4 linked regions of the Homo sapiens genome follow. The protein of the gene in region 2 interacts with the protein of the main gene of each other region in a biochemical or structural test. Each region holds a gene or a part of one and is shown on either strand. Other genes may lie near its edges. The genes, in order: GSTP1, MAPK8, HNF4A and STAT3.

Region 1 (7,289 bases), on a different chromosome or scaffold from region 2:
TCTCTCTCTTTTTTTTTCTTCCTCTTCTAGTTTGTGAGGTTCAGTAAACACAGCCAGGCTGAGGGCTCCAGGAAGCCACTGACTGTGCTGGAGGAGCTGTTTTCTAGTCCTCTGCTCTGCCCTCCCACCGACCTCGAGGCTGAGAACCCCTAAGCCCCGTCCCAGGAAACACAGTGCTCATAGTAGCTCTCTTAGAAATTTTATTGGTCCTGGAGAAAGGAAGGCAAACTCTGCCTCCCGCTCAGAGTCCCCCCAACCCTCACTGTTTCCCGTTGCCATTGATGGGGAGGTTCACGTACTCAGGGGAGGCCAGGAAGGCCTTGAGCTTGGGCCGGGCACTGAGGCGCCCCACATATGCTGAGAGCAGGGGGAACGCATCCAGGCAGCCAGGGGCTAGGACCTCATGGATCAGCAGCAAGTCCAGCAGGTTGTAGTCAGCGAAGGAGATCTGCAGGGCAGGGGGGCCAGGGACTCAGCCAGCGGGAGCAGGCTGGAGGAATTGGGGGCAGAGGGCCTAAGCCCATCCCCTAGGTCTGCTCTGCTTTGCTAAACAAATGGCTCACACCTGTGTCCATCTGGAAGCAGAGGGTGGCGAGGAAGGAACAGCATGGGGCCAGATGCTCACCTGGTCTCCCACAATGAAGGTCTTGCCTCCCTGGTTCTGGGACAGCAGGGTCTCAAAAGGCTTCAGTTGCCCGGGCAGTGCCTTCACATAGTCATCCTTGCCCGCCTCCTGCCAGACACCACCATGTATCATCCTACTCTCATCCCTCCCAGCCCCTGAGACACCCCCGTCTGCCCCAGGCCAGACACCAGAGTCCCAGATTCTCCTCTGCTTGCTCCCCACAACCAGGCTAGTACCAAATCCTGTCCACTTCAGCTGCCAACTCATCTCTATTCCATTCTGCCTGTCCATCCTTGCTGGGTTCTCTCACCAGATGATTGCAAAAGCTTTAGAGCTGGCTTCTCTGGAGGATCCTTCTAGACCTCACATTCAGACACAGCCCTGTTCAGACTTCTCAATGGCCCCCATTGCCCTTAGGAGACTCCAAACCAGTGGGTTCAAGGCCTTCGGGACCTGGGCCTACTGCCCGCCCATCTCTATCTCCTTACCCACCCGACACAAATGCAAGCGTACACACACACACGCACACACATGCACACGCACGCGCACACACGCTGCCTCTGCTGAACTGGTCCCAGGTCCCCAAATGTGCTCTGTGTCTGCATATTTTCCTCAGCTAAAAGTGCCAGCACCTCCATCCAGAAACTGGCGACAAATCCTCCTCCACCTCTGGCTACTCCAGGAAGCCCTCGCCACCCCAGGAGATCAGAAACCACCAGTTGCTGGAGGTCTCTGTCCTTGCACTCGCCCCCATGACCCGTTACTTGGCTGGTTGATGTCCCAGGCAATAAGGGTGCAGGTTGTGTCTTGTCCCAGGCCCCTGGGCCCCTGGCCCAGAGCTGACCCAGCCCCTGCACCCTGACCCAAGAAGGGGTCAGCCCAAGCCACCTGAGGGGTAAGGGGGGTGAGGGCACAAGAAGCCCCTTTCTTTGTTCAGCCCCCAGTGCCCAACCCTGGTGCAGATGCTCACATAGTTGGTGTAGATGAGGGAGATGTATTTGCAGCGGAGGTCCTCCACGCCGTCATTCACCATGTCCACCAGGGCTGCCTCCTGCTGGTCCTTCCCATAGAGCCCTGGGGTTGGGTGGAGGGGAGCAGGCCGCGTGACTGGGCGCCTGATCAACACACAGTCACTGGGGATGGGCCAACCAGGGGGCTGTCTGTGAGCCCCAGCCTGGGAGGAGGGGAAGAGGATGTGCGTGGAAGGATGAGAGACTGCCACACAGCAGGTGCTCAGAGCTCACCTGACACCTGGGAGGCAGCCTGGCACAGGGCAAGGATTGCAGGCACCCAGGCTTGACCTTGGGCAAACTACGTAACCTCAGTGGGTCTCAGTTTCCTCCACTCCAGAGGGCTGCGGGGCAGCTGATTTAAACAAAAGGGCTCCGGGGGCAGAGGCTTGCCCATGCCTGCCCTGGACTTGGAGGTTCAAGACTCACCAAGGGTGCGGCCCAGGTGACGCAGGATGGTATTGGACTGGTACAGGGTGAGGTCTCCGTCCTGGAACTTGGGGAGCTGCCCGTATAGCTGTTGGGGGAGGCATGGCTCAGGGAGGGGCACTGAGCTTGGGCGTCCCCCGATCCTAGTCACAGCCCCCTAAGGCCCAGCACCCCCTCCCCTTGCCCGGGCATGGTCACTTACGCAGGAGGCTTTGAGTGAGCCCTCCTGCCACGTCTCCACGGTCACCACCTCCTCCTTCCAGCTCTGGCCCTGATCTGCCAGCAGCATGCGCAGGGCCGCGCAGCGGCCTGCGGGGAGGGAGAAGTACGAGATGTGGGGACCGGGCCGACTCCGCCTCGCAGCAACCCGGGGAGGGGTCAGGAGTGCAGGGAGGGAACAGGGAAACAGGTTCCTCCGAAGATTTCACACAACACTGGGGCGGGGAGCAGGCATGGCGGGAGAGGCGGGGAACAGGAAGGAGGCCCGGGGTAAAAGCCACACGACGGAGGGATAAGGGGGTTCGGATCTCTCCGGGTGGGCGAGGGGCTGTGGGCTGCAGCCCCAGCCCCTGCCTCCCTTCCCTGCCAGACACATGCTCCTACCTCGAACTGGGAAATAGACCACGGTGTAGGGCGGCACTGCAGCGAACAAAGAAAAGTTTGCTGGAGCCCGGGGGAGGATGCCAAGGCGCGGTGAGCGCAGTCTGCCCCCCCTCCCCGCCCCCGGGGTCCCATCCCTCCCCGAGGCGCTCCGGGCCCCCTGAAAGCCGCTAACGGCACTGGGGACGTCCTGGGTCCCCTAGGCCCCCGTCCCGGGTCTCGAGGTGGGCGAGGAGCCCTGCCGGGAGCCCGGGCCTGATGCTGCGGGTTGGCCCCATGCTGGGAGCTCTGAGCCCCATCCCCGGGGACGCGGGCCGCGCGTACTCACTGGTGGCGAAGACTGCGGCGGCGAAACTCCAGCGAAGGCCTCGCGGCCTCCGAGCCTTATAAGGGTGGTCCCGCCCCGCTCCGCCCCAGTGCTGAGTCACGGCGCCGGCCGCTCTTCTGGAGGGTCCCGCGGACTCCCGCCGGCCCCAGCCCCGGCGGCCGCTGCACCCCGGGCGTCGGCCGCAGAGGGGCGCCCTGGAGTCCCCGGAGTCGCCGCGCAGCTGGCCGGGGAAGCCTTTCCCTCTTTCCCAGGTCCCCAGCGGGGCCTAGGGAGTAAACAGACAGCAGGAAGAGGACCGCAGCGAAGTGTGCGCAGCGAACTGGCGCGCCGGGACATCGCGGGGGGAAATTCCCTAAGACCGCTGCGATCCCGGAGCTTGCACACCCGCTTCACAGGGCAGGGGAGAGGGGTGGAGGCCGCTTAGAGGAAAGGAAATTGCTTTATTTTATTTTATTTTATTTTATTTTTTTATTTTATTTTATTTTATTTTATTTTATTTTATTTTATTTTATTTTATTTTATTTTGTGTTATTTTATTTTATTTTATGACGTAGTCTCACGCTGTGGCCCAGGCTGGAGTGCAGTGGCGCGATCTCGGCGGCTCACTGCAACCTCCGCCTCTCGGGTTCAAGCAATTCTGCTTCAGCCTCCCGAGTAGGTGGAATTATAGGTGCGTGCCACATCTGGCTGATTTTTGTATTTTTAGTAGAGACGGGGTTTCACCATGTTGGCCGGGCTGGTCTCGAACTCCTGACCTTAGGTGATCTGCACGCCTCGGCTTCCCAAAGTGCTGGGATTACAGGCGTGAGCCACCACGCCTGGCCGTCCAACTTTTATTTGAAGTTCTGGGGTACATGTAGAGGATGTGCAGGTTTGTTACATAGGTGTGTGCGCCATGATGGTTTGCTGTACAGATCATCCCATCACCCAGGTATTAAGCCCAGTATCCCTTAGCTATTCTTCCTGGTACTCTCCCTCCCCAGCACCCCGCTCAACAGGCACCAGTGTGTGTTGATCGCCGCCATGTGACCATGTGTTCTCATTGTTCAGCTCCCACTTATAAGTGAGACCATGCGGTCTCGCTGGTTTTCTGTTCCTGTGTGAGTTTGCTGAGGCTAACGGCTTCCAGCTCCACCCATGTCCCTGCAAAGGACATGATCACGTTCCTTTTAGTGGCTGTGCCTTAGGCTATTTTCTTTGGCTTTGCTGCCTACTTTCTGTTGATTTGCAGATCTCCATTTATTCTAGATATTGATCTCTTGTTGGCTTTAGACATGACAGACAGCTTCTCCTATTCCATCAACTGTCAAGTTTGTCCAAGGAGTCTTTCATGAAACAAAACTCGTTAATTTAAGTGTAATCAAATTCAGCAAGGGATTTTTGTGGTGGGGAAGAGGTTGGTGTTTATGTTGTATCTTTAAAACTTCATTTAATGCAGCCATTAAAAAGAACTAGATCATGTCTTTTGTGGGAACATGGATGGAGCTAGAGGCTATTATCCTTAGCAAACTAATGCAGGAACAGAAATCCAAATACTGGATGTTCTCACTTGTAAGTGGGAGCTAAATGATGAGAACTTATAACACAAACAAGGAAACAACAGACACTGTGGTTGACTCCAGGGTGCAGGATGGGAGGAAGGAGAGGAGCAGAAAAGAGAACTATTGGGTACTCGGCATAATACCTGGGTGATGAAATATTCTGTACAACAAACACCGAAGACACGAGTTTACTTATGTAACAAACCTTCACATGTACCCCCAAAACAGAAATAAAAGTTAAAAAACAAAGAAATTTCATTTAAAAGTCTTTTTTAAGAGACTTATTATCGGGGGAAATTCAGCCCCCAATATTTCACGTGGGTCCTTTCCTATTTTCCCTAAGTGTCGGCTGGCCTGAGAAATAAAGGGAAAGAGTACAAAAGAGAGACATTTTAAAGCCGGGTGTCCAGGGGAGACATCACATGTCCGCAGGTTCCGTGATGCCCCCTGAGCCGTAAAACCAGCGAGTTTTTATTAGCAATTTTCAAAGAGGAGGGAGTGCACGAACAGGGTGTGGGTCACAGAGATCACATACTTCAAGGGCGACAAAAGATCACAGGGCAGAAGGTCACGGCGAAACTAGAATCACTAATGAACTTCCAGGTCCCACTGTGCACGCACTGTCAGGGTTCAAGAGCAGAGAACCGGTCTGACTAGAATTTGCCAGGCTGGAATTTCCTAATCCTATCAAGTCTGGGGGTGCTGCAGGAGACTAGGGCGTGTTTCATCCCTTTCTACTTCTGAATAAAGGCAGGCACTCTCAGGGAGGCCATTTCAGTGGCCCGGCCCTGGGAATGCATTCTTTTCTCAGGGCTGTTAATTATTAATATTCCTTACTGGGGAAAGAATTCAGCGATATTTCTCTTACCTGTTTGCGGTAATAAGAGAAGTATGGCTCTGTCCTGCCCAGCCCACAGGCAGCCAGACTTTAAGGTTATCTCCCTTGTTCCCTGAAAATTGCTGTTATCCTGTTCTTAAGATGCCCAGATTTCACATTGCTCAAACACACAACAATTGTCCTCTACAAACAATTTGTGCAGTTAACGCAGTCATCACAGGGTCCTAAGGCGACATACATCCTCAGTTTACGAAGATGACAGGATTAAGAGATTAAAGACAGGCATAGGAAATCACAAGAGTATTGATTGGGGAAGTGATAAATGTCCATGAAATCTTCACAATTTATGTTCTTCTGCCATGGCTTCAGCCAGTCCCTCCGTTCGGGGTGCCTGACTTCCCACAACATGTATGTTGCCGCAGCTGGTCTGGAACTCTTGGCCCCAAGTGATCCTCCTGCCTTACTTAGCCTCTCGAATAGCTGGGACTACAGGCATGTGCCACCACACCCAGCTAATTTTTGTATTTTTTGTAGAGATGGGGTTTCACCATGTTGCCCAGGCTGTCCTTTTTTTTTTTTTTTTTTTTTTAAATTTTCACCAATGGACTGAGGTCACAAGGAAGCTTTTTAAATTTTTGTCACCTTGGGTTTTCTTTAATTTCACTCTAATTGTCTAGCTTTGGTGCTCTTCCTGGCTTGCCAAGCTGTCTCTCTGGTTTGGCCTCTTGGCCCTTCGGTCTGAGGTTGGTCATCTTTCTTCAGTTTTGAGAAATGTATCTCCATTGTTTCTTCTGAGATGCCCTCTTCTCCGTCTTCTTCCTCTTCCTCCTCCTCCTCCTCTTCTTCTTCTTCTTTCTTCCTTGCACTATCTGGAAAATGGCCCTTCTAATCTATCCTCCTATCACTTTACTGCCTTTTTTTTTTTTTAGACAGGCTGTCACTCTACTGCCCAGGCTGGAGTGCACTGGCACCATCTCAGCTCACTGCAATCTCTGCTTCCTGGTTCAAGTGATTCTCCTGCCTCAGCCTCCTGAGTAGCTGGGATCACAGGTGCCTGCCACCACACCTGGCTAATTTTTGTATTTTTAGTAGAGACAGGGTTTCATCATGTTGGCCAGGCTGGTCTCAAACTCCTGACCTCAAGTGATCCACCTGCCTCGGGCTCCCAAAGTGCTGGGATTACAGGCGTGAGCCACTGCGCCTGGCCACTTCGATGTCATTTGTGTTTCTTCTGGTTTGTCTTTCCTGGGAGAGAGTTCCCCAGCTGATCTCATCACTCACCTCTTCATCCATGAGTCGCATACCTCGTATGATTCATCCCATCTGTTGTTGGCTTTCTTCGATTATTGTTTTTATATCTACTCTTTCTTTTTGTTGCTTTTTGTAACTTCCTATTGCCAGTGCCTTCTCTCATGTCCTCATGATTTCTCTTGTGTGTATTCTCCGTCTGTGTGCTGCACTCATTCAGCGTCAGGGGATGTTCCTGTCCCCTGAGATGTCTCCCCTGGAACCAGTGAGCTTGTGCCCTTCCCTTGGTGGCACTGGTCATTCTCTCGGGTAGTATGCCAGCCTGTGGTTTCAAAGCAAAGGAAGGAGATAAGCACCACCAAACCACAGCCAACCTCTCCCCTTTGCTATCGCTCTTCAAACAGAGCTTGAGGTCAGAGTTTCCCCTTCCGAACCTTGGGAAGCAGCGCTGGGGAAGGTGGCTCCCCATGTTCTAATGTGCTGGTGCTGGGTGTTTCCAGGGGAAGTGTGGGAGGGAGAAAGCCCGCCCCATTCAGTCCCACTGTTCTCCCCAGTGCCTCACCCAGCAGAGGGTAGCAGAGGCTAACTTCGGTTTAGCCTGCACCAGGGTCAGTGTTCAGCAGTGACATCCCCTCAACAACTCCAGAGAGTACTAATAAAGGAACTGAAT
Region 2 (7,037 bases):
ATCACTGAATATACTAAAAACCACTGAATGGTATACTTCAAATGGGTGAATTGCATGACACAGAAATTATATTTCAATAAAGCTGTTATAAAAGAGATTCAAACAGATAGTTGTCCCATTTTTCAAAAAGGGAAATAAAGGAAATTATATCAGTTATAGACTGGACAGCCAAGCAAAAGTCAATGATTAGTAGTGGTATATAACTACTTCAAAAGAAGTAACAATTACCAAGAGCAGGTAAAAGTTCATTGAGAAATACTATTTCCTTCCATGAATAAAAACAACAAAGAACAATAGCAATAAATCAGAAAAATGCAACCAGACACAGTATATGAAGATTTCAAAATGGCATTTTACAAAATGTTTCTAATAATAACATCCATGTGAATAAGATGATGAATTGGAAACAGCTGGATAACTGTGATAGTTAGACACGTAATTTCTGCAATATGCTCAAAAGTTGCTAATGAATTAATCCAGCTATTACAAAGATATCCTGAGCAAAACTGGGAAGTGAAGCCCACAAGTGAAAAGTCAGAACAAGGAAGAAAAAAGCAATCACAGCAATCACTAGTAGACCAGGAAGAGCAACCACATTTCACCTTTGAAATTTAATAGGGAGAAACATGAAGTACTATACTTAATTCTCCATAATCAAAAGAAAAAATATAAAGACTGGGTGAGATGGGAACTGTAAGGCAGGCCTGTAACAAAGAAAGACAACGGGAGTCAGATGGGGACGAAATTTCTAAACAGGGTTTTAATGTCTACAGTTAAGAGATGACATGCCTCAGCTCCTCTCAGAGGATTTGATCAGACGTGCAGTACTGTGTGCTAGGTGGCTTATGCAGTAGTGTGTGCTAGGTCACTTTCAAAGTGTGTTCAGAGATAAACGGCCAAGATTAAAAAAGAAACTCAAGACCATCTATGAAAAGAATGAGAAAAACCAGAGATGCTTAGACCAGTGAAGAGACAATCTGTACAGAGGATGAAATTGTTTAAAAGGCAAAACACTACAAAAACATCCATCCATGGGTGAGTGGAATAATTCAGTTACCATTTCCAGTTTTCCCATATTTAGCTTTATACTCACTCACTGAACAAATATATTCTGAGTACCTACTCTTGTCCACACTCTTCTAGGTGCTGAGAGTTCTGCCTGGATAAACCTCTGCCACCCCTGCTAGAGGCCTAATCATGTGAGACATGCTTAGTCATACTCCATGCAGTTGAAGGAACCACCTTTCTTTGCAGTCACCCAGGCTTGAGAGGTAGGATTAACTGAACTCCTCCCCAAGGAAAAACTAAGGCAACACCACCACTGCCATGGAACTGCGTTCACAGGCCACAAGGGGCACGAGCAGCTCTATCCATGGACAGGATGCCACCAGCAAAACTGTGATGAGCAACACATCAAGTTCCCGCTTGGAACAAGAATGGCTACCACAACTTCCTCCCTATTATTATCTAAGTTTAATCTTTGTCTCTGGACCTTTTTTACGTCATTCTTCCTCTCTGAAGGCTCCTTTCCTTCAACAATCCAATTTTTACCCCATCTTTAAGAGTCAGCCTAGGTCTACTCCTCCCCAAAGCCTTCCCAGTTAATTAAAGCTCACAGAAATCGTCCCTCTTTTTAGATTTCAATATATGGGCCACCATCATCATTTGACAAACGGCCACTGCTTTGTGATGTTTGATATTTAACTCTCTGTATGTCTGTTTTGTATTCAAAACACCATTGTAAGCTCCCCAAATAAAGGGCCTAATCCTGAACTTCCATGATTTTTTTTTCCCTTGATAATGAACCCAGTAACTCCAATACACAGAGGCCTGCACATATTTAGATCTCAAAATGTGGTAAATTGTATTATCTGTAGTCAGAAGGTACTGTGCTCATTATATTATATAAACTCTTTTGGACAAACACTACGAAATGTCTTTAGTCAGATGCCTTCGGTTTAGGACTGCCTAAAAGTGTCCCTTACACAATTCACTCCTAGTTTATTTCCTCAACTGAAGAAATCATTCCATTAGAACAATCACAAAAGTATGAATAAGCTTAATGTAAGTTTAAAAAAGTATAACTGTTTATTCTCAAAATGAGTGCAACTTATATATCTTTATAAAGACTTATCTTTGCAATCATTAGAAAATAGAATTAGAAACATGTTAATACCCTCTAGATAGTTTCAAACACTTTCTGCTAAACCCACTATCCTCATCATAAAGTGATCAGTGAATACTGCCATCACTTAAAGAGGTGGGAGTGGGGTAGGGAGAAGTGATATAAATTTTATATTCAATATGATTAAAGTCAGAGTGTCAAAGCATAATGGGAACAATTTCATCTCTGTGCTAATGCTACAGTTTTCTAAATGTCAGCCTGACGGAGAACAAAAAGCAGAAGATGAGATCAAGCTGAATAAAATTCTTCTCAAACGCTTATCTTTTTAAAACTCCTTTTGTAAATTAAATGACAGGAAATCATATAATCTAAATTTTAGAAGCCATTCTTCTGATACAATTTAATAAAGTTGAGGAAAATCACCCTGTAGATATATATATATATATATATATCCCTTTTAAACAATGTTTTAATACAGAACAATTTAAAGCCCCTAATATTTAGTCTTTGATATTCACATATTCATGAATAAATCTTGATTTCATCTATACTTAGGAAACCAAAAATGTTCACTTACATTTTTGTGATTAACACATTTCATAAGAACTAGCTCTCTGTAGGCCCGCTTGGCATGAGTCTGATTCTGAAATGGTCGGCTTAGCTTCTTGATTGCAACATTTCTTTCAAGAATGGCATCATAAGCTGCGCTGTAATAAGAAATTCAAAAACACACAAAAAAACTTCAAGCAAAAATCTGTAAACTGAATTCATGAAACAGTCATATACATTTCTCACTTTCTCCAAAGACAAGTAACTGGATCCCTTCCAAGTCTATGACGCTCAACATGTGTCTTCTATATCTATTACAACATATATTTTTTTGCAACTATTTCCTAAAATGCTAATGGATCCAAATAGACAGTGGACTATGCCAACAGAGACCCTGCATGTTCGTTGTGTTGCCTCAAAGATCCACCTAGTACATCGTGGGCACTCAATGTACAAATCCATAATTATTTAGCTCCACTAGATAGCCTAAAGCCTAAATAAATCCTTAACCTTGTACTTCCATCAAGAAAAGGTAGGATAAAGAATGCATACGAGGCTGGGTGCAGTGGCTCACGCCTGTAATCCCAGCACTTTGGGAGGTCAAGGTGGGTGGATCATGAGGTCAGGAGATCGAGACCATCCTGGCCAACACAGTGAAACTCCGCCTCTACTAAAATACAAAAAAATTAGCTGGGTGTGATGGTGCACACCTGTAGTCCCAGCTACTTGAGAGGCTAAGGCAAGGGAATCACTTGAACCTGGGAGGCGGAAGTTGCAGTGAGCCAAGATCGCACCACCGCACTCCAGCCTGGTAGACTCCCTCAAAAAAAAAAAAAGCATATAAATTCTACTCAAAAGATTTGCTGAATAATTCTATGTAAACACATTACTTCTATCCTTTTGGACACAATAAAATAAATACAGAAGGGCCAGGCGCAGTGGCTCACGCCTGTAATCCCAGCACTTTGGGAGGCCGAGGCGGGTAGATCACGAGATCAGGAGATCGAGACCATCCCGGCTAACATGGTGAAACCCTGTCTCTACTAAAAATACACACACACACACACACACACACACACACACACACACACAAATTAGCCGGGCGTGGTGGCAGGCACCTGTAGCCCCAGCTACTCCGGAGGCTGAGGCGGGAGAATGGCGTGAACCCGGGAGGCGGAGCTTGCAGTGAGCCAAGATCACGCCACTGCACTCTAGCCTGGGCGACAGAGTGAGACTCTGTCTCAAAAAAAAACAAAAAAACAAAAAAACAAAAAACAAAAAACAAAATCTGAACAGAGAGCTGGCTTTCAGAATCCTAATACTGACTATATAATATGATTTTCTTTAAATTTAATTTATGGTTGGTTAAATGTGGTTGGTTACAATGAGAACAGGCCAGTCAAAACGGCTTACAAAATGACTCCAACTTCTATAATTTTTGATATTGTAAATTACTTCAAGAATGCAGGAAAGATAATAAATGCCATTCTATTATGCAAATTTATTAAATCTTAATACGTTACCATAATTGCTCTGATTTTTTTTTTTTTTTTAGACGGAGTCTCACTCTATCACCCAGGCTGGAGTGCAGTGACACCATCTCAGCTCACCACAACCTCCACCTCCCGGGTTCAAGCTATTCTCCTGCCTCCGCCTCCCAAGTAGCTGGGATTACAGGCATGTGCCACCATGCCCAGCTAATTTTTGTATTTTGAGTACAGACAGGGTTTCACCATGTTGGCCAGGCTGGTCTTGAACTCCTGACCTCATGATCCACCCACCTCGGCCTCCCAAAGTGCGGGGATTATAGGCGTGAGCCACCGCGCCCGGCTTGCTCTGAATTTTTTAGAAAGAAATATAATATTATAGGTCAAACCTCCTTTCTTTTCTCTATTTTCTCAGAGATAAACAACATCCTAAGTTTGGTATTTATGCATGTTTTAATCTTTTGTACATATATATAATCCATAAATATATGGTACTGCTTTGCATATTTTAAGCTACATGTAAATGGTATAATGATGTATATATATATTCTACATCTTGCTTTGAAGCCCAGCACTACATTTCTGAGGTTATCCTTGTTGACACATATGGCTCCAGTTCGTTTAAAATGTTATATAGTATTTCACAGCATGACTGTATCACAATTTTTTATTCTTCTGTTGATAGATTTGATGCTATTTCCAATTTTTGCTGTTATAAATGGTGCTGCAAACACCAATCCTATGCATGACTCCCTGTGCACATGTAAAACAGTTTTTTTAGAACCTAGGAGAAATACTGGATTATAAATACTTAACAGTTTACATTTTGTTTAGAATAGATTCTGAAATTTGTTTCAAGAAGAGGTAATAAAAATATAATTATTCTTGAGTGAGGCTTATAATTCCCCAAAACACTAGTTTATTATTATGCTAATTTAGTGATCTGCAATCAGTATCAGAACTATCCCAAAGAGTGATCTGCATTTCAGTTTATAAAGAATTATGCTGATATAGCCTGAGGCTTTTGTAGAAATTAGCTAATAAATCAATTTTAAACATATGGATGAATTTTGAAACACACACAGTGAGATATTAGCTGACTTCATTCCCCAGTATAGAATAAGATTTCTGAAATTCCACGCTTCATTATAGTGTGAAAGTGATGACTAAGTGAAGCTTCTTATTAAACAATTATCTATGGGAATACATGTATACATGAAATTAACAAGCATGCCACTTATTCTTTGCTGATAGAGATATTTGTCTTCAATGGCTATGCCCAAGTATTTAATCATAGTTTATACTTAAAGATGGCAGTGCTAGTTTATAGAGTTGTATCTTATGAATAATACAGGTTATTATCCCAAATCTGAAAATATGAAATCTAAAATGCTCGAGAATCTAAATTTTGGGGGCACTGACATGATGCTCAAAGGAAATGTTCACTGAAGTATTTCTGATTTGAATTTGGAATGCTCAACCAATGCAAATATTCCAAAATCTGACACTTCTGGTCCTAAGCATTTCAGATAAGGGATACTCAACCTTTAATAATAATAATAAAGAAAAGACCATTGATCCTGAAGCAAACAATTTACTGTGGAATAGTTTTCGTTTAATTTTTAGTTTTAATTTAATTTTTCAAAGCAAGTTAAATATTTGCCAAGGTATCTAAATTACGAGAGGAGAAAAGGTAGCAGTTAATGATTCTTTGCCTAATTTTTGGAAGTAAACACTTACCATACTATTCCTTGAGCTCCTGAGCCTATAGGTTTTAAATTCTGATATCGTTTCAGGACTGTGAATGTAGAATCTCCAATCTCTACACTATAAAAATTGTTGTCACGCTTGCTTCTGCTCATGATGGCAAGCAATTAATTTAATGGCTTCATCCAAAAATTCACCAAGAAGCTGCAAGATGCAACAAAACATGATGTTAACAAAATGAACTTGTTTTAATCTTAAAATTTGAGTCCTTACTGTTTACGTACTGATAGTAACACAGACTGCTAGATCATGAAAAGAGCTGCTTCATTAAAAAACATAAGAAAAAAAATACCGCAGAGCCTTGATTAGCATATGCCATATGAATGACTGATAGTTTTTTTTAAAAAAGAAACATTAGGATAAATCATTCCTCCAATCTAGAAGTTACCAGTATTAATACATTAATAACTTACAAGACGAACAAAAGAAAGCAAATAATTAAAATTAAACATGTTTTTACGTCACTCCACAGTTTAAAATTTAAAACCAGTCTTTCTCATGTGCTTATTATAGAGAATAAAAACCTTAATTTTTGTAAGAAATTTATAAACTTTGATTCAAAAATGGTTAAGTCTCATTTAGTGCCAAGTGGAGGGAACAACAAATGGAAATAAGTTGACTAGCATGTGTCATCCTTGCCTAAAAAACAAAGGGTACCACAGTGCCTTCACTGTGACAGATCCTCTGACCTGCCAAGGCAACCTCCTGGTGTAACACACATACTGAGACTGTAATGGGTGAAAGGATGAGAAGCAAAACAGAAAGGAGAGAGAGAGAAGTAGTTAGGCATATTGGGATACAAAACAAAACAATACTATTCTATCCTGCCTGAGGCATTAAAAGTACGATTCAACTTCTGACTACCATTCCTTTACTACTTGTAGGATTAAAAATCAAGACACTTTTTTTCTACCCATGTGAATACTGGTTATTAACAAACTTATCCATCCTTACTAGACAAAAGAGACTATTCCAAAATGTATGCAAAGCAGCTTTAACCTATTCCTCGCCTCCTCAATAAGTCATGAAACCAATTAGGTCTAAAGTTATTGTTTTTTGTGGTTTTAAGATAATGCTAACCCCCAAGAAATCCTGATATGACTTACAAT
Region 3 (7,037 bases), on a different chromosome or scaffold from region 2:
GAATCTGGCCCTCCCAAACTTCCAGTCCATTCTGCTCCCAGGGGAACCGGGAAACTGCGGGGGAACTGGAAGGGAGCTCCCAGAACAAGGATCCAGAAGATTGGCATCTGGGGCCTGGGATTTAGGTTTCTAAATCGTGGGCCATGGGGCAGCCTTATCTCTGCAAAAGCATTGAGGGTAGAAGTCAATGATTTGGGAAGTTATTGAATTAGGGGATCTCGGAGGTAGGCTGTCAGTGCCTGATAGTATCAGTTAGAATGCCTGACTTGGGGTGACAATGGCTTGGAGGGGTGGGTGAGTCAAGGGTCAAATGAGTGCCCGTGAGTCATGATGCCTGCCTTGTACAATTGATAACTGAACATCGGTGAGTTAGGGCCCCAGCAGTTGTAATTAGCACCCCGGGTGTCAGCCAGAAACCAACAAACAGCCAAATCCCTGCAGCCCCGCCCAGCCTATCCACCGGCGGGGGACCGATTAACCATTAACCCCCACCCCTCCCCGGCAGAGCCTCCACCCCTTCACAGAGGCTAGGCCAAGACTCCCAGCAGATCTTCCCAGAGGACGGTTTGAAAGGAAGGCAGAGAGGGCACTGGGAGGAGGCAGTGGGAGGGCGGAGGGCGGGGGCCTTCGGGGTGGGCGCCCAGGGTAGGGCAGGTGGCCGCGGCGTGGAGGCAGGGAGAATGCGACTCTCCAAAACCCTCGTCGACATGGACATGGCCGACTACAGTGCTGCACTGGACCCAGCCTACACCACCCTGGAATTTGAGAATGTGCAGGTGTTGACGATGGGCAATGGTAGGTGGGGGCAGATGTGCCCAGGTGTGCCAGTGGGGGCAGGTGTGCCTGGGTCCAGGAGCAGATCTTTGGCACTCAACTTTGGGGTGGGAGGAGAATGATACAAAATGGTAGGTTGGTCCTACAGGCCAGCACAGGTGTTGCCAAGTGAAGCCCATGTGCCCAGGCACAGTGATCACAGGCATTCTGGGTGAAGGGAGGCCTGCAAGGGCCAATTTCCAGCAAAAGTCGATCCCGGCTATTCCTCCCAGGCCCTTCCAGTCCTCACTGCCTCACAGTGGCTCTGCTTGGCGCTTGGCACAGTGACGTGATGGTGAGCTCCCCCTTGGTGCCCAGCTCCAGCGATTCAGCCCAGCACGGCCCCTTCGTGAACCCCTTGGGCCTAGGTTCAGAGAGACGGCAAGGGATGTTGTATCCCTGGAGATGGTGGTTGGAGACATAACCGCATTTCTCGGTGTCTTTGGGACTTTCCTAGGGAAATGAAATTGGCACTTAGGGAAAATGGAGCTCTCAGGGAAGTTTTGCTAACTACGAAGCCAACTCAGCACTGTGTGTGTTGTGTGTGCGTTCGTGTGTGATAGTGAGTTTCCATGTAGGTTGTATGGGTGGGGTGATGCCTTCAGGAACCCATTTGCATATGTGTGTTCATTTGTCTCTGTGTGTGAGTTCTGGGTCTATTTTCCTTTGTATTCATTGAGTGGGTCTGTGTTTGTGTCTTAGGAGTTGCCCGTGTTGATCTTGCTTATGTATGTAAGTGTGTATGTGTGTGTACTTGTGTCTGTGGATGTTTGTACATGTGTGCTGTGTGTGCGGGTCATAGAGCACATGCGTTTGTGCATGCGGACCTGTTGGAGTGCCCTGTTCTTCCTGCATCTTTATCCTGTATGGGCGTTTTGTCGTGTGCCCATATTTGTACCTGCTGTGTATATATGCAGTTCCCTGTGCTGCGGGCGGGGGTCAGCGGTCTCTGGTGTGCACGACTGCACAGACCCAAATGCAGGACTCTGTTGTTGCCACTCACCAAGTGAGATTCATATCAGCAACATGTCCGTTTGTCTCTGAGCAGATTTTGTTGCCGCTGCGTCTCGCCAGATTGAGGCATCCCCTCCGACATCACTGGAGCATATCTGGAGGGGTGGACAGTTCTCCACAGGGAGGTAGGGGAAAAGAGGAGGCCCGGAAACCCCTCCTGGAGGGAAGAGCCCCATCGGTCCCAGGCCAGCCTCAGAGGAGAGGGGGCAGGCAGCTGGCTGAGGTCAGCCTGCCACCCTGCTTCCTTCTGTGTCTTGGAGCCACTCAGCCAGTATGAGGCTGCAGCTCCAGCTGAGGTCTGGAATCTTGTGGTCAGCTCAGCTAGGGTGAGGAGGCAGCTGCTGGGCACTGCTTGTTGTCAGCTCAGCAGGTGCTCACCTGCCCCTGCCGTCCAGTCACGTGTGACCTTGGGCATGTCACCTCCCCTATCCTGGCTTCTGTATCTTCTACAAAACAGGCTTCATTCCCCCAGGCCTGCTGGCTGGACGGCTTTTAGGCCTGTCTGAGGACCACGCCAGGAGCGCAAGGCAAAAACACACCAGAGATAGCAAACAAGCTGCTGCTGCACTAGGTGGAGTGTTGTGTGGCCCCACGAGGACCACTGCCCTGCCCTGGGCTGCTCCCCGCCCCCATCACTTTTTCCAAGCCCAGGAACTGTGTGCTCCTGAGGCAGAGGCCAAGCCCCTGAACTGGGAGTCCCAAAGACAAGACCACCTCCAGCTCTGGAACCAGAAAGATCTGGGCTCAAATCCGGCATAGATCCTTCCAACCTGTGTGAATGTGGCAAGGCAATTTCCTCTCTGAGCCTCAGTTTCCTCACCTATAAAATGGGAATAAATAATAGTGTCTGTCTCCCAGGGCTGGCCAGAGGATAAATAAGATGAGGTGCCTGGGTGCTTAGCCCTGGTAAAGGGCCTGGCCCCACCATGGGTCATCTCAAGGGCTCTGAGCATCTGTAAGCAGGGTCCCCACATTCCTCACTGGAGTTTGAAGTGGTCTGAATTGGGGTTATGTGAAGTTGTCCTCTGAAGTGTTTTGAGTACATCCTGGGCTGGTGTCTGAAAGGCTCCAAGGATATTTCTCCCCCGTCCTCTCCCCACCCCAATGGAGCAGCAGCCCTGGGTGGCTCCTTGTTCATTAGAGGCCCAGCAGACACCTCAACATGTGTGGCACTGGCTGGAGTAGCCCAGCAAGCCTGGACCATAAACCCATGGCTCTGCTTCACGGGAAGCAGTGCGATGACACCAGGAAGCCACTTTTCCTCTCTAAGCCTCAGTGTCCTCATCTGTGGAATAGAGGTGCTCGGCTGACCTCAGAGGGGAGATGATAGAGCTGACAGCCCCCAGCCCATCCTGCCTCAGAGGTGGGAGCTACTTCCCCAGCCTCCTGCTGAATGGCCAGGAGCTGTGGGGGTCAGCTCTCCCCGGGGGTCGGGGGAGGAGAGGCCGAGGGAGAAAGGGCACCCACGTGGCTTAACAATTATCCCCATCTCCAGGAATAATTCACCAAGTGGAGGGGGCTGCACTCCTGGGGACACCTGGGAGTCTGCGATGGCAGAAATGAGATGCGGCAGTGTCTGCTTGTGCAAGGAGCCTGGAAGTCCTCTGCTCCGAGAGTTTTCCTATGTGGAAAAGTTTTTATTTCATGAACACTGATATAGTGCTTACTATGTGCCAAGCACTTCACATACACATATGAGAATTCACCGAATCCCCATAACGAACCTAGGGGAATATCACGTTCCCCATTTTACAAGTGAGGAAACAAAAGCATAGAGAAGTAAACGAACACAGTCAATGTCACACGGCTAAAAAGTGGGCAAGCTGGAATTGAACCCTGGGCAGAAGGACTTCAGAGGCTGTGCTGTTACCTACAGTGCATGGCCCTCTCTGGGTCTTAACTGGATGCCCCTGAGGAATCCAAGGTTGGATTCAGGATTTCTATGAATACACGTGTGTGTGTGTGTGTCTGTGTATGTGTGTATGTTTGTGCATGTGAGCATGTGTGTGTGGACTGTGTGTATGTGTATGTATATGTGTGGACTGTATGTGTGCACACATTTGTATATGTGTGTGTTGATGTGTTTGTATGTATGCATGTGTGTGGACTATGTGCAAGTGTGTGCAATGTATGTGGACTGTGTGCATGTGTGGACTGTGTGTATGTGTGTGCATGTGTGTGGAGCGTGTGTGTGCTTATGTGTGGACTCTGTGTTCATGTGTGTGTACTGTATGTGTACACATGTGTGTATATATGTGTGTGTGTGCGTGTGTCTGTGTGGTGTGTGGACTGTGTGGTGTGTGTGAACTGTGGTGTGTGTGTGCGTGACTGTGTGGTGTGTGTGCGCGTGTGTGTGACTGCTTGGTGTGTGTGAACTGTGGTGTGTGTGGTGTGTGTGTGCTTGTGTGTGGTGTGTGTGCGTGTGTGGGAACTGTGTGGTGTGTGTGGACTGTGGTGTGTAAGGTGTGTGTGTGCTTGTGTGTGGTGTGTGCGTGTGTGTGGACTGTGTGGTGCGTGTGTGTGCTTGTGTGTGGACTGTGTGGTGCGTGTGTGTGGACTGTGTGGTGCGTGTGTGTGCTTGTGCGTAGCGTGTGTGCGTGTGTGTGGACTGTGTGGCACACACGCTTGCATTTTCCCGGGGGCTGACCCATTGCATTTGTCATCTTCTTCAAAGGGGTCTATCTTTGCTGAAAGATTTGCTGACAAATAAAGGGGGTTCAGCTGCTGCTATTTTTTTAAATTTGGAAACAAATTTTTTAAATTTTTTAAATTTTTTAAATTTGGAAACAGACCAGTCAAACTGCTGCCTTTTATGGTTAGAGAAAATGAGGCCCAGAAGAAATTGAAGCAGGGAAAGCGAAGTTGCCCAAGTTTACAGGCGAGTTAGTGGCAGCATCAGCAGTAGTGCCCAGGACTCCTGGCACCCAGCCCAAGATCCTCTTTCCACCTGCCTCTACGGCCCCCCTCACATTTGTGTAGATGCAGTAGCTTTTGCCTGTGGGATGGGAGGGATGGGAGATGTGTCCAGACCCTCCTAGGAGGCCACATGAGTGTGACTGTTCTCGGCCCAAGTCTTTCTCGTTCCTCAGAGAATTTGCGGGGCCCCTGGGCACACAAGCTGAGATCCACCCAGCCCTGGTCCCTTGGCAAGAACTGAGGGACAGGACCTGGTTCTGGGGAAAATGCAGGGGAATGTTTCTCCCTTCCACAGCCCCCTTGCGAGTTAGGAGGCCGGCTCCCACCCCAGAAGGTGGCCAGGTTTTCATGCCTTCCTAGAGAAAGCTGGGGCTCGTGGCCTCCACCACAGGAAGACGCAGACCCTCAGAAACAAGTCTGTGAAGTCACAACCAGCCCCAGTTTACAGATGTGAAACTGAAGCTCCAAAAAGTCAGGAGGTCACTGAGTGGGGAGGTGATGGAGTGGGAACAGCCCCCAGATCTGGCTGAGGCCGAAGCCCTGGAGAGATCCCCGCAAGGCTCCCTTAGATGCCTGACATTCTGTTCTTCCTGAAGCCTCACTCCCTTCTCTCCTGGCGCAGACACGTCCCCATCAGAAGGCACCAACCTCAACGCGCCCAACAGCCTGGGTGTCAGCGCCCTGTGTGCCATCTGCGGGGACCGGGCCACGGGCAAACACTACGGTGCCTCGAGCTGTGACGGCTGCAAGGGCTTCTTCCGGAGGAGCGTGCGGAAGAACCACATGTACTCCTGCAGGTGAGGAGCCTCAATTTCTTCAGCTGGGAAATGGGCACACTTGGGCTCATGGCCCCAAGGTCTGTCTTCTCCCTGAGTGGGTAGGTCCCAGAGACAGCTGCCCTTCAGGGCCTTCAAGGCTCTTCTGGTTTTGTAAAAGACTTTGTGAATCCAAGAAGAGCATCTATTCTAGGAACCACATTTACTGATCATCAAGCTACTGGCTGCCGTTTATTGAGCTCTTATCATATGCCAGGCACAATACTAAGTCTTTGTGTGTATTTACCCATCCCCTTGAGCCCATTGTTGTTTTTCCCATTCCATGGGGCCTCTCCTGAAGCCTCAGTAGATGAGCCCGTCTTCCAGTCTGGTGCTGTTTTTGGGACAAATAGGAGATTGACCCCAGGCCGTTCCACCTACCCCAGGGGCTTCCACCAACCCCAAAGTCTTCCCAAGGCCTTGGAGAGCCCTCTTTCGAAAGCATCTCCTGTTCTGGGTAATGACAATAATAAAATCATAGCAGCTGTCAATTGCGAGCACTTGTCATGTACAAAGACTGTGCCCCATCGGCGCATGACTTCATTTCACCTGTCAACACCCCTGTGAGATGGTTACTGTTGTTATTCCCATTTTATAGAGGAGGAAGCTGTGGCTTGGAGGGCTAGGCATTTGCCCAAGGTCAACCAGCTTGAATCACTGGCAGAGCCAGGGTTAACATTCAGGGCCCCACCCATCACCACGGTGTGGCACTGCCTCTACTTCCTATCCCCCTCCAGAGAGAGGCTTATGTGAACCGAGTATTAACTCTGAGCCATAACCAGGAGCCTGCTATGGGTTCTGAGCTTTTATAGGATGTGGTGGAAATAGCAGGGCTCTGGTACTCCAGAGGTCAAGGTTCCCAACTCAGCTCTAACACCAACCAGCAGAGCGACCCAGGACCACATGTTGCCTCTCTGAGCCTCAGTTTTCCCATGTTTAGCAGGACAGGACTGGGCTCTTAGAGAGTTCATAGCACCTTTCCAGCTCCTGGTGGGTTCAAGAGAGAACTCCCGGGATGAAGAGATGAGAGCACTGAGGTTGGGGGGTCAACTGGATAGCCAGGGCCCTAGTTCTGTCCTAAGAGGAGGAAGTTGTGTCTTCTCCATCCAACCATCCAAAGCCCTCCCCAGATTTAGCCGGCAGTGCGTGGTGGACAAAGACAAGAGGAACCAGTGCCGCTACTGCAGGCTCAAGAAATGCTTCCGGGCTGGCATGAAGAAGGAAGGTGAGCCTCGGCCCTCCCCGCCCCACCACCACTGCCCCACCTGCACCCACAGCTCCCCGACAGTCATTTACAACTGTAGCCACACTTTATGACTCAGTGGCAGGCCCCAGGGTGACTGGCTAATGGCTGAGAAGAGGGAGGGCCTGGAAATCTGACCATAGGGAGCGGCTGGGCTTGGTCTTGAGAAAGATTCAGAGAGATAAGCTCCCACTCTTGGCTCCTCAGGCTCCCAGCAACCACCACCCCTGCCTGCC
Region 4 (2,656 bases), on a different chromosome or scaffold from region 2:
GGGGTGGGGAGAAGCCCTGTGGGCGCCCGCGTAGCTGAGGTTGGGGCGCCTTTCCCTGCATTATCACCGCTGGCTGCCGGGGGCCCTGCAGCCACCACCGGGTGTCTGCGTGTTGTCCCCGCTGGGTGAACTGAAGGGAAAGTGATAAAGGAGCCAACTGTGGAAGGGGAGGCCTTGGTGCGGTGGGAGTATCTACCCCCCACCCCGCTTAGGTGGCTTATCTGACCCCAGACAGGACGAGGCCGCTCTGGGGGGTAGGAGGGGGCCGGGGAGGGAGGCCTCCACTCTGACACCTTTCTGCCGTTGGACTATTGACCTCCTGCTCCTCCAGGCACCCCTTACCTCCGGGCTGGTGGCTAACATAAGGGGGTTGGCGGGGGGGATTAAGGCAACCACCTCCTCTCAAGACCCTTTCCGGCCCTTATCCCAGGCCCCACCTGTGTGTGAGGCCCCCTCAGAACTTATGCAGGGGAAAAGGAAGCCTCCACCAGCCAAACAGAGCTGCCATGCTATCAGACGGTTCCTATATAACGTTTATTTCTGGAAGTTAAAGTAGATACAGCAATATACCAAAAAAAAAAAAAAAAAAAAAAGACAAAAAACCTCACAATAATATAAATTTTTACACTATGAAGTACACATTGGAATTTGAATGCAGTGGCCAGGACAGCAGCTTATAAACCACCTTATAGGTAGGTAAGCAACCCACGGGATTCCCTCGGCTGGGCTGGGGATGGGGAGGGGGCAGTGGACAGGAAGCGGGCAGGGCCTGAGGACCCTGTTCTTTAATGGGCCACAACAGGGCTCAGCTCCTCTCAGAACTTTTGCTACAATCAGAGTTAAGACCAGATACATGCTACCTAAGGCCATGAACTTGACAATATCTGCTCCAGAGAAGCCCTGAACCCTCGCCCTAGGTCCCTATGATTTAAACCCAATGGTAAGCCCAAGTCTCACCTTTCTAAATATTCTGTTTATCAGTTAAGCTTATTATGTACTGAAGAGTGTTGCTGGAGAAGTAAGAGCTCTGCATGACACATCAACTGTCTCCAGGCAGGAGGACTGGGGCGAACCCTGTTCATCTTAGAGAAGGTCGTCTCCCCCTTAATTCAGAGACCAGCTAATTTGATTTAACAAACAGAATTCCACAGAAACTCTGATCAGCTGAGGCAAGGTGGTTTTGAGTTGCCAAATCCGGCCATGCCTCTGAGTCAGAGGCAGCCCATCCAGCACGTGCTAGGTGTTCCCATACGCACAGGAGAGGCGAGCTAGCCAGCCAAGGCGGGCAGGCGGGGAGGCCCTCTAGCTGTTCTGCCTCACCTGTGGGGCCCCAGCAGGGAGGAGTCACCAGCCTCAGAGGGAGGCCAGGTATACACCCTCATACGAGGGCAGACTCAAGTTTATCAGTAAGCCTTTGCCCTGCATGAACTGAATGAAGACGCCATTACAAGTGCCACTGGATATCACCAAGAAACTGGCTAAGAACCATATTCCCTGAGCTCAACCAGACACGTCGCTGGGGCCCCATAGTGTGCATCATGTCCAACCTGTAACTCTCTCCCCCTCTTCTTCCATGAGGTCCTGAGACCAGGATTCCTAAAACAAACAGGATGAGGGACCTTTAGACACGCAAGGAGACATGCCTCTAGCAGGATCAGGGGGACTGGGGTCGGGAGGGTGGGGCAGGAAGGAAGCCAGAATCAGAAGTATCCCAGCCCTGATAAGGCACCCACAGAAACAACCTAGCCTCTGAAACAGCAGATCAAGTCCAGGGAGAAAGGGAGTCAAGGTTGTAAGCACCCTCTGCCCAGCCTTACTCACTAAAAGGCCAATACATTACAAAGGAAAATAAGTCTATTTATAAAAAAAAGTCTAAAATGCTTAGATTCTCCTTAAACCTTCCTATTTCAACACCAAAGGCCAGGTTGCAGCTTCAGATGTCTTAAGGGTTTGACCTGAAGCCCGTTTCAGGGATTATATAAATTACCAGCCTGAAGGAAGCTGAATGCTTAAAGCACCAAGGAGGCTGTTAACTGAAGTTTCTTTTTTTTTTTTTTTTTTTTGAGACAGAGTCTCAGACTGTCGCCCAGGATGGAGTGCAGTGTGCAGTGGTGCAATTTTGGCTCACTGCAACCTCCGCCTCTCAGGTTCAAGCGATTCTCCTGCCTCAGCCTCCCGAGTAGCTGGGACTACAGGCGCCCACCACCACACCCAGCTAATTTTTTGTACTTTTAGTAGAGACGGGGTTTCACCGTGTTAGCCAGGATGGTCTTGATCTCCTGACCTTATGATCCGCCTCGGCCTCCCAAAGTGCTGGGATTACAGGCGTGAGCCACCATGCCCGGCTGCTTAAGTTTCTTAAATACAGAAAGGCTATGCTGATACAGTGTTTTTTGCCCTTTAATTGTTATTATTTCTTAATTTAAAAAGAAACCTAGGGCTTAGATAGTCCTATCTTCTATTTGGATGTCAGCAAGGTTAAAAAGTGCAATGCCAGGAGTATGTAGCTATAGGTGGCCTGTGGCATTTGCTTACAGAAACAGGCAGAAGGATGCCGCAGGCACCAGGAGGCACTTGTCTAAGAACAACAACAACAATAACAAAAAGCTGCTGAGAAAGGAGGGCAGGGGAACAAAACAACACAAGACATTTCCTT

What was found.
Region 1: the proteins of MAPK8 (region 2) and GSTP1 form a complex in vitro, tested with the Homo sapiens proteins (2 studies listed by BioGRID).
Region 3: of the proteins of MAPK8 (region 2) and HNF4A, one has a biochemical effect on the other in vitro, tested with the Homo sapiens proteins (one study listed by IntAct).
Region 4: of the proteins of MAPK8 (region 2) and STAT3, one has a biochemical effect on the other in vitro, tested with the Homo sapiens proteins (2 studies listed by BioGRID).

The regions. Positions count from the first base shown.
Region 1 is NC_000011.10:67,579,548-67,586,836, reverse strand, and holds GSTP1 (glutathione S-transferase P), read right to left. Parts: upstream 3,026-7,289; 5' UTR 2,994-3,025; coding exon 2,993-2,993; intron 2,704-2,992; coding exon 2,668-2,703; intron 2,374-2,667; coding exon 2,267-2,373; intron 2,153-2,266; coding exon 2,065-2,152; intron 1,700-2,064; coding exon 1,596-1,699; intron 734-1,595; coding exon 626-733; intron 449-625; coding exon 260-448; 3' UTR 184-259; downstream 1-183. UniProt on the Homo sapiens protein: Conjugation of reduced glutathione to a wide number of exogenous and endogenous hydrophobic electrophiles. Involved in the formation of glutathione conjugates of both prostaglandin A2 (PGA2) and prostaglandin J2 (PGJ2).
Region 2 is NC_000010.11:48,400,647-48,407,683, reverse strand, and holds part of MAPK8 (mitogen-activated protein kinase 8), read right to left. Parts: intron 6,073-7,037; 5' UTR 6,024-6,072; coding exon 5,902-6,023; intron 2,833-5,901; coding exon 2,703-2,832; intron 1-2,702. UniProt on the Homo sapiens protein: Serine/threonine-protein kinase involved in various processes such as cell proliferation, differentiation, migration, transformation and programmed cell death.
Region 3 is NC_000020.11:44,400,693-44,407,729, forward strand, and holds part of HNF4A (hepatocyte nuclear factor 4-alpha), read left to right. Parts: exon of another isoform or gene 1-680; coding exon of another isoform or gene 681-795; intron 796-1,861; coding exon of another isoform or gene 1,862-1,952; intron 1,953-5,365; coding exon 5,366-5,540; intron 5,541-6,688; coding exon 6,689-6,783; intron 6,784-7,037. UniProt on the Homo sapiens protein: Transcriptional regulator which controls the expression of hepatic genes during the transition of endodermal cells to hepatic progenitor cells, facilitating the recruitment of RNA pol II to the promoters of target genes. Activates the transcription of CYP2C38.
Region 4 is NC_000017.11:42,312,809-42,315,464, forward strand, and holds the end of STAT3 (signal transducer and activator of transcription 3), read right to left. Parts: 3' UTR 516-2,656; downstream 1-515. UniProt on the Homo sapiens protein: Signal transducer and transcription activator that mediates cellular responses to interleukins, KITLG/SCF, LEP and other growth factors. Once activated, recruits coactivators, such as NCOA1 or MED1, to the promoter region of the target gene.